Homo sapiens: one gene and its partner. The protein of the gene in region 2 purifies or fractionates together with the protein of the main gene of each other region. This does not show direct contact. Each region holds a gene or a part of one and is shown on either strand. Other genes may lie near its edges.

The links.
Region 1: the proteins of DPH3 (region 2) and ATE1 purify together in Homo sapiens (affinity purification with mass spectrometry; 2 studies listed by BioGRID and IntAct, with this or other methods). This does not show direct contact.

The regions. Positions count from the first base shown.
Region 1 is NC_000010.11:121,739,626-121,743,050, forward strand, and holds the end of ATE1 (arginyl-tRNA--protein transferase 1), read right to left. Parts: 3' UTR 799-3,425; downstream 1-798. UniProt on the Homo sapiens protein: Involved in the post-translational conjugation of arginine to the N-terminal aspartate or glutamate of a protein. This arginylation is required for degradation of the protein via the ubiquitin pathway. Does not arginylate cysteine residues.
Region 2 is NC_000003.12:16,256,330-16,262,029, forward strand, and holds the end of DPH3 (diphthamide biosynthesis protein 3), read right to left. Parts: intron 4,501-5,700; coding exon 4,435-4,500; 3' UTR 732-4,434; downstream 1-731.

The DNA of each region.
Region 1 (3,425 bases), on a different chromosome or scaffold from region 2:
GAATTGCTTCTTCATATTGCAGATGAAGAGATGTGATGAGGAAACCACGCTCTCTATATGCATGCAAGCTATTTGGAAGCTCTAATAAAAACTTGGGAAACAAAACGTCTACAGCAACTTTAATTCTTAGTCTACACTGAAACGTGAAAGGTAGTCAGGAGTTGTTGCCGATGGGATTAAAATTGTTTTTACTTTTCTTCAGTATTCTTTTCTATATTGTCTAAATGTTTCCTGATGAACACTGTCCATTTCAACTAAGAAAAGGCTAAGTCCATTCTGGAGGAAAAAAATGACAGTGGGAATTGTAACTAATATTTAAATCACTTGGAAATAGGATTCATTTTATCACCAACCTACCAGGACCCTCTTTACTGTAAAGAGATAAAACACTAGTAAATGTATTGCATAAATATACCACAGACTATTATGAACAATTAAAGCACACTTTATATTTTTTAAAATTTCTCTGTAAACGTTCTAAGATAAATTATATTTGAATTTGATAAAGTCCTATTTTGAATCCCTTTGGGTTATAAAAGTCTATTCCCTAATTTATCTTGTGAAAATCCAGACTTCTGGCTTAAAATGGGATTTACTTTACTCTCTGAGAAAGGAATCCACCGTACTTTGATTTAGATAACCACATGGTCTGGAACTCCATTTAGTGAAAATTAAATTTTATGACTCATATAGCCAATGTTTTACCTCTGTTTTCTACATATTCACAGCAGGTGAAATGTGTTCAGGAATTTAAAGATGAAAACATATGTCTTTTAAGTAATGACCACCAAGAGCCACTGCAGATAGAAACAGCTTTATTTTTTCCATTCAGGCTTTATCAAATAGCTTGTTCAAAAAGCATATACAAGAGCAAAAAATACCACATGCAGTCAAACTTCTTTTGCCTTATAGTCATTGGCTTTCTTTTAGAAAAGAGTGTGCACTTGAATAACTTCTAATTCAAACATTTTCCAACTGTTTCTACTTCATTTTTCAAGTTAGCAACGACAGATACATTTTAGTTAACTGTTTCATATTCCTTATCTTTATTCATACTGAAATAATATAAAGCCTATAAAATCAAAGCATATACTGTTCAGAAATCTGGAAAGGTTCTTTTACATAATAGATTCTGACACGTTAAGAAACTACACACAACAAATATTTGCAAAATGAATGAAAAATAGGATAAAGCTATTTAAAAGTCAACATAGTAATATTTATCTAAATAATTTTAATCAAATGTACAACATATTTATCTGATATCATCTATCTTTTAGAATACAAAAAAGTGCTCAGATTACATTTAAAAAAATAACAAAAATCTCTTAGAATGGAAATAATTTAAATAAGGACGGTAGCAAGGGGAATTGAAATTACATCTTTGCTCCCAAAACAGGAAGGCAGGTGTGATGTATTTGAAAATCAGAAAGGGACACAACACTAAGATTGCAAATGCAAAGCTTCCTGCCTTGGAAAGATATAAACTGTCTTTGAAAAGTCCTTGTGTCTTTCTTTACAGAAAGTTACGAACATAAAATCAGATCTCTCAGCTAGACTGCTGGTCAAGTAACAAGGTGGGTCACTTTTCTTGACTATGCTTTTCTAGTCCACTATCAGTATTCACTCAGCTGGGGCTCAAAAGGACAAATAGGTGTCCTTTTAAGACACTTTGACTACTTGGATCAATACACTAGCTATTCTCAAACCAACATAATGCATGAATACAGCAGCCAAGTAGAAGGATCTCCAATGCTCAAGTCACTCTGAGTCTTTGCTGGTGTCAACCTACAATGCCACCCTCAAGGAAAGCACAGTGGTTCACAGACAGGGATGATTCATCATTTTCCTCTGAAAATGAATTCTGCAGGAAGAAACCAGAGTTGTGGTAAGATGTTGGAGTCAAGTTTTCTCTTCATCTGATATTCAAGGGTTGTGATCTTTATGAATACCATTTTACATGCTAATCACAAAGACAAATGGAGGGAAGATACAGTGATAACACCAAGTTGGACATTCAAATGCTAAGCGAGCCAAGTACCAGCCCTACCCTGCTTATTTTTAATAATGCAGAGATTACTTACTACACTTTCTGAAGCCTTATTTTGAAATTTATTTCACATTTCAGACATGTCCATAATTTACTGTTGAGGAAATAAAACAGCATGTAGAACATAATTCTATTTATATTAAAATTACATAGGTATGTGTGTATACATACATGACAGTTCTTTTCTCCTTCTGAGTATGGTAGGGTTGTAGATGATTTTTACTTTTTATTTATACTTCTTAATGTTCTAACTGCTTACAGTGTCACTTTTGTTATAATCATAAAATGAAGCTCTTTTCATTTTAGAGGAAAAAGAGAAAAAAGGCTCTATAGATTCTGAAGGCAGTTCCAAGTAAGTCTCTCAAATGCTCTTACGAGACTACTTTGCAGGTCAAAATCCCAGAAAAATGTAAAATCTTGTGATCAGAGAAAATGGCTTTGCTCACTACTCTAGCTCGGTTAGCAGAGTACGCAGCACCTTGGCAGGTGTGACACACACACTCTGAATGAAGAAATGCGGCTGACTTGGATGTTGAGTTTCTAGAGATTTCAGTTTTAAAATCATTGTTTTATGATCCTTTTTATTCTAGTTAGCTGAGGATATTTTCAAATTTTTGTCAAAATTCAGTACATTTTAGAGGAAAGTTTAAAATTAGCAACAGGATTCAAACTACCATGTTTTATAACATGGCTTTTAAGAAACGATGAACCAAAACAGAAAAATGGGCAAAGTGGGGACTAAAAACGGCTTGCTGGCCAAATAGCTGGTAGCAGAAGAGGGGATCAGCTGACAAAGAGGGCACAAGAAAATAACCCTCCTGTTTTTCATCCTGTTTCCCAGACAGCTCGACTATAGCTAAGAAGGGACATGTCTGACTGTCCTCCTGTACCCAGCACAGTGCCTGCCACCTTGACAGGTGGGCAAAGGACTCAGCAAAAGAAAGTGAGGGAAGGAGGGGGCTGGCCTCTGCTCTGAGTTACTAAGGGTGGCAGAAGCCACCCTGACTGTGACTCTCAAATCAAAGGACAAGAAATGGATTGTTCTAGCTCTTGTCCTGGAACAGAGGTCGGAATGATTCCTTCTTCAATGTGATTTGTGGCATAACTATGAAAGTAATCACATACTAATTTCCATTAATAACCAAAGACAAATGTCCTGAGTTGTAAGATAAAAAACTAGTGACTATTTATTTCCTTTGGATGAGACTTAGATCAAGGCAGGAACCAACATTTTTCTTTAAAAAAATTCAATTTCTTACATTTTTAGAAGTAAAGCAAATAATATAACTAGAGTAATTATGTATTTTATTGTCCAAACTGGGATATTTTTTAGAGTAAAAGGGAGTACTATATTCTAGGGGAAAAAACTATGCCA
Region 2 (5,700 bases):
AGCCTGGGTGACACAGCGAGACTCCGTCTAAAAAAAAAAATGGTTCCTTTTAACTTAGTGATTATGAACTTTCTGCTTTTCTAGCCCAGTGGTTCTAGGCCTTGGCTACATGTTAGAATCGCTAGGGAGACTTTTTAAAAAATCCTGATGCCCAAGTTGCACCCAAATCAATTAAGTCAGACTCACTGGGGCATCAAATTTTTAAAGCGCCCGAAGCGATTACAAATGTGCTGTCAAGTTTGAAAACCAGTGGTTCCCAAACTTTTAACTGCATGCGAATCAGCAAGCAGGCTTGTTAAAACACAGGTTGCTGGGCCCTACCCCTAGATTCAATAAGAGGGAGGCAAGGGTGTCCAAAACTTTGCACTTCTCATATTTATGCCAAGAATACTGTCAATGTTTGCTGTGGCTTGGATATGGTTTGTCCACACCAAACTCATATTGAGGCTTGGTCCCCAACGTAATGGTGTTGAAAGATGGTGAGACTTTTAAGAGGTATTTGGATAACAAGGGATCTGCCCTTGAAGAAATTAATGACATCTGGTGGGAGTGAGTGTTCCCTCTCCCAAGACTGGATTAGTTACCAAGAGAGGCGGTTGCTATAAAATAAGGCTGACTCTCCAGTATGGTATCTTTGCACATGCCCGCTTCCCGTTCTGCTTCTCCATCATGTTAGGACACAGCACGAGACCCTCACCATGGTCATAACATGAACTCCCCAGGCGCCAGACTCATGAGCCAAATTAACCTTTATTCTTGATAAATTATCCAGTCTCAGGTATTGTTACAGCAGCAGAACATGGACTAGGAGAAAGCGCAAAACAATGTTTAATTCCTTTCGGAGTTAGAATAGTTAACCATTTTTTGCACATGACAGGCATTAGCTGTCATGTTTTATAGATACTAGCTCATTTAATCATTTTCACAAGGCTGTTTCCTTCTCATCCTTCAGGTCTTAGAAAAAGTGCCAGAGCTCAGACTCCCTTAAAAAGTCACCTGACCCAGTTACTCTCTCCCACATCACCTGGTTTGTTTCCTTGGGGGCTCTAACTCATCTGTAATCTTGCTTCTGTCTCTTCTAGTTCCACTAAGTTTCCAAATGTAGAAACCGAATCTTCTTCCCCTAGTGCCTAGCATGTGACAGGTACTTCTTTGCCTAGTGCATAGCACATGACAGCTATTTTTCTAATTGCAGAATGAATGGGTTCACACAGCAACCCTGTCAAAGAGGTACTATGATCCAGATTTCACAAACCAGAATATAATTATTAAGTAACTTCTCGGAGATCACAGTGGAGGAACTAAGATTCAAATTGTCTTCTGACCAGAGCTGGGCTCTGAAACCACTCCAAGAATTGATCATCAGCCTTAAACAATCAGTTTTCTTTCCTTGTAATAAACTGAGTTACTCATCTAAGAATGTCAACTTTGTCTTACTACCACTTGACTCAGTTATTTTTTTCCCAAACAATAGAAATCCAGAGCCCAAACTGTAGAAATTGGCAATTTCCTTATTTAAAAACTACTGTCCATAACAAAAAGTCTATTAACAATACCCCAAAGCAGTTAAGATTTCTACCTCATATAAAATCATAAACATTTTAATTCAAAATGTTGACATTTAGAAGAAAAACTACATAAAAGCAAATGGATTTGAATTATCTGACTTTATTTAGCATGCAATGCAATTTATTCTGGCAATAAATTAATATGTGCAGTTATAAAAAATGTTGGGTACTTTTTCCAAGAAAAATGTTTCTGAATGTGCACACTAGAATATATGCAGAATCCTTTAAACAGTCGACTTCATATTTTAAACTTGTAAGTGTGGTAACATCAAGTTTTGGAAGAATGGACTTTTTCTGTAATTCATGATTTAGTTTGAGTTTATAAAGGTTTTAATTGCAATTTCAGTTCCTACAAGCTACCAAGCCTGAAATTAGAGAACTGACAGCTGAGAAAGGCAATCACCTGATCGAGTCTCCTAATTGTACAGCTGAAGAATCCAATGGCCTTGCCAAAGATTACGAAGCTAAAAAGAGACATAGCCTGGATTACAAGTCAGTTTTTATAGGTGCTCCAGGAATGTCTTGAGCTAAATAAGGCACACGTATCACACAGAACTTTAGTCGTATCTCAGAGTCCAGTTTTACTCTGCTTTCTCTTTATTTTTTAGGCATGAGGTCTTGCCCTGTCACACAGGCTGGAACGCAGTGGTGTGATCACAGCTCACCACAGCCTCAAACTCCTGGGCCCAAGCAATTTGCTCAAGGCCCCACACCTTGCTAATTAAAAGAAGATTTTTTAGAGACAGGGTCTTTCTATGTTGCCCAGGCTAGTCTTGAACTCCTGGCCTCACATGATCCTCCTGCCTTAGCTTCCTGAGTAGCTGGGATTACAGGCACGAGCCACTGCGCCTGGCTCTGGTTTTACCTTCTGCTTAACACAGGATTCAATCTTGATGTGTTCTCCTACAGTTCACAAACTTAGTGACTCAATTGCTTTAGAAACAAAGCAATAAATGATTTGATTTAGAAATAATTTGGTTTAGAAACAAAACCATTCCCATTATTGCAGCATTATCATCAGTCACTGACTGCTAATGCTTTTTATGCTTCTTTTTTCCTGGGATGTGTGAACCTGGCAACTTTTCTTCCTGTTCTTCTATGTTCTTAGCAAACCCACATCAAGGGTGTCTGTTCGTGTTTGAAACTCATCAGCATCAGAAAGAGCTAACATGTTGGCAGTATCTAGAAAACCATCAACATGATCATGGGACAGTTCATTTTGCTTTGCAGCTGATGCCACCATAGTGAGTGAGTACTCTGCTCTGTTCATCTGAGCAGTCACTTTGCTTTTGCAAAGCAGTTGTGGATTACTTCTGGGATGTCAGTGTCCCAAATGGCAATGAGATTTCTCATCACATCCAGAATATGCCACATAATGTACTGAGCATTTTCAGCTCGGTACATTATAATTTTTGGTAATTTATTGTCTCAGCCTAGTGGCTGCACACAGCCATGCTGCTGGCAGGTAAAAAAGGCTACTCACTTGTTTTAACGTCCAATGAATGTGTGCAGTACATTTACCAGTAACAGAACATTTACATTCTAGCAAGCTATTTTTCTAATTGCAGAAGCCATTCCTAAAACAACCTGACGGACATCACTGCATTAATAAATATTTTTTATTTATACACAGTAAAGTTGTGTATATAAAGGGAATTTTCAAATTTCCAATGTAAATGATTCTAATTTCTTGCTATGCTTAGTACTGCAGCAAAAGAAGGGTGATAGCCTATCTTTATATATTTCTTTTTCTCCAGGGCAACATTTCTCTGCAGGAGTGAATGTCTGGTTTGGCTGCATGTTATAGAGGCTTATTAAATATGCTCTCATGGGCATATTTATTCACAATAGGTCTCTCATTTTCAAGCTCATTCTCCGCTGTAGATGCTTTACCTTGTAGTAGTGACACAACACTGTGATATGCCAAAAGCACAGCTACCAGCCATGGAAATTTGACGTTAACCCCTACCTGGAATGCAATTTCATTAGCCTTATCAAAACACAAACAAAAACTCAGATACAGAAATATTACTTGCTCTGACCTGGCAAAGTCATTCAAACATTCCACTTACTACACTGGTATGCTTTGCTCCTCTCATTCTGTCACCAATTTCACTTCTTTTGGATGTTTTTCTTTTCATCTTGTCCTGACTTCCAAGGAATATGCAGAATATAAGAAAAGTCCTCATTCTTTCATCACTTCATTTTGGACTTTCTTTCTTGTTCACTAACTTTTAGCTCTGGAGACATTGTGACCTCACTGTATTTTCTCTTTAATACTATGACCAAACTCTCTGCATGAAGCATTACAGAAATGACACGCTGAACAGAACATGTCCATTCTAATGGGAAAACTGAGGAGACTGGCTTGGTATAGAAACTGGAAGTGTGGTACTGATGAAGCAACTAATTTTAAATTTAGAACAGCAAAGCTGATGTCATATTTCAAAGGAAGGGCTAATTTTAATAATCTTAATAACCAAGTCAAAAATACAATCTCTTTTTTATTAAGAAATCCTAATGACTGAGGTAGATGATGCTGTTGTCAGATACCGAAGTAATTTGGTTTAAGATATGAAAATGATGAAACCAAGGGAAAGAAAGCACTGTTTTGAAATTATCTTCTTTTAAATTTAGATGCATAATTAAGAATGCTTCCAATTTAAGGTTCTAAGCACAAAATCCAGATATGTCATGTTATGGACTTGCTTCCTGAAGATGATATCAGCAGTTGATAGAAAGAATCCACACTCTTACAGAACAGCAAATCATAAATGGTTGTCTCTGTGAAGCCAGTAGCTTTGCATTCGATATTTCTATCTGGGCTCATTCCAAATGTTCAGGATTTGGATTCCTGAAGGCTTCTTCAGCATTTAACTAATTCTTTGTTGGCTGAAGGGGCTGGGACTGTTTCTCCACACACAAACTGATCCTAAGACAGAGTGAGAAATGACATTAACCAATGAATTTCCGGTCACAAATACATTAATATTAAACCTTCATTTTGTTACAGCATCAATCCAGCGCTGTTAATTGTTTTTCATTTGCTATTATCATTTCATCCTTGTTCAAAGAGCCAATGACAGCACCAGAAGTAGAATCTTAAACATGTATCAGTTTTTTGATCTGAATTCATTATTTAATACAAAGCACCTTATAAACAAACATCCCTATCTTCAGTTCAGAGCAACCACTTCTCAGAAATCACATAAAGACATGCCACATATTTTAAATTTCTGTATTAATTACTACTTACACTAAAACTTCTCCACTTTAATATTTGGTCATTCAAATACCAGTCCTCTTCAAAGTAATTACTTCTTCTAACTAAAAGGGACAGGTCTTTATGTGGTTCCCAACATGGATAATCTGCTATGTTAGCTACTTTGTAAATGAAGTTCAATCTCTGGTCTTTTATCCTGGCTTATGTCAGCTACCACCAAAAATCTCTGCTTCCAAGGTTATCCCTCACCTCCAGCAATCTGATTCCCGAAGGATCAGCCCCTACTCTGTCCCTGCTACTCTGTTGCCCAATATGTGGAACCCTTTCACTGTGCCCTTTGGAATTCATGGTCCATTGTTAGCACAATGCTTCATATTCTCAACCTCTTTCTCAAAATGTCCTTTTATCCCCAAGAGCACTGGTAATATCTGGAAACAGTTTGAATTGAAACAACTGAGGATTGCTATTGGCATCTAGTAGGTAGAGGCCAGGGATCCTGCTAGACATCCTATAATGCACGGGGTATCTCTGAACAACAAAGAATTATCAGGCCTAAAATGTCAACAGGGCTGAGGTTGAGATGAAGTCATATTCTTAAGGACAGTTTCCCCTACAAGCCCATCTAGTGGAGGCTCTGTGTTCTCAGAGTCCTAGTACCAGAGGGATTGGAAGTGGGGCTAGTTCCTCCTTTTTGCCTCCATTCTCCTTTCCTGTCTAAAACCCATCAGTTTAGAATCTTATGTCTTGAGACTACCGCCTTGCTATTCTTCTCTGTTGCTGTCATTTATCCACCCTGGATGCCATATTCCAACCCCTCTGGACCTCCACCATATTCATCCTACCACCCTTTCACTGCCCCTCACTCCCTTCATGTTCTCTTTACCTAGTTCAAACTCCATGGTCAGTTAT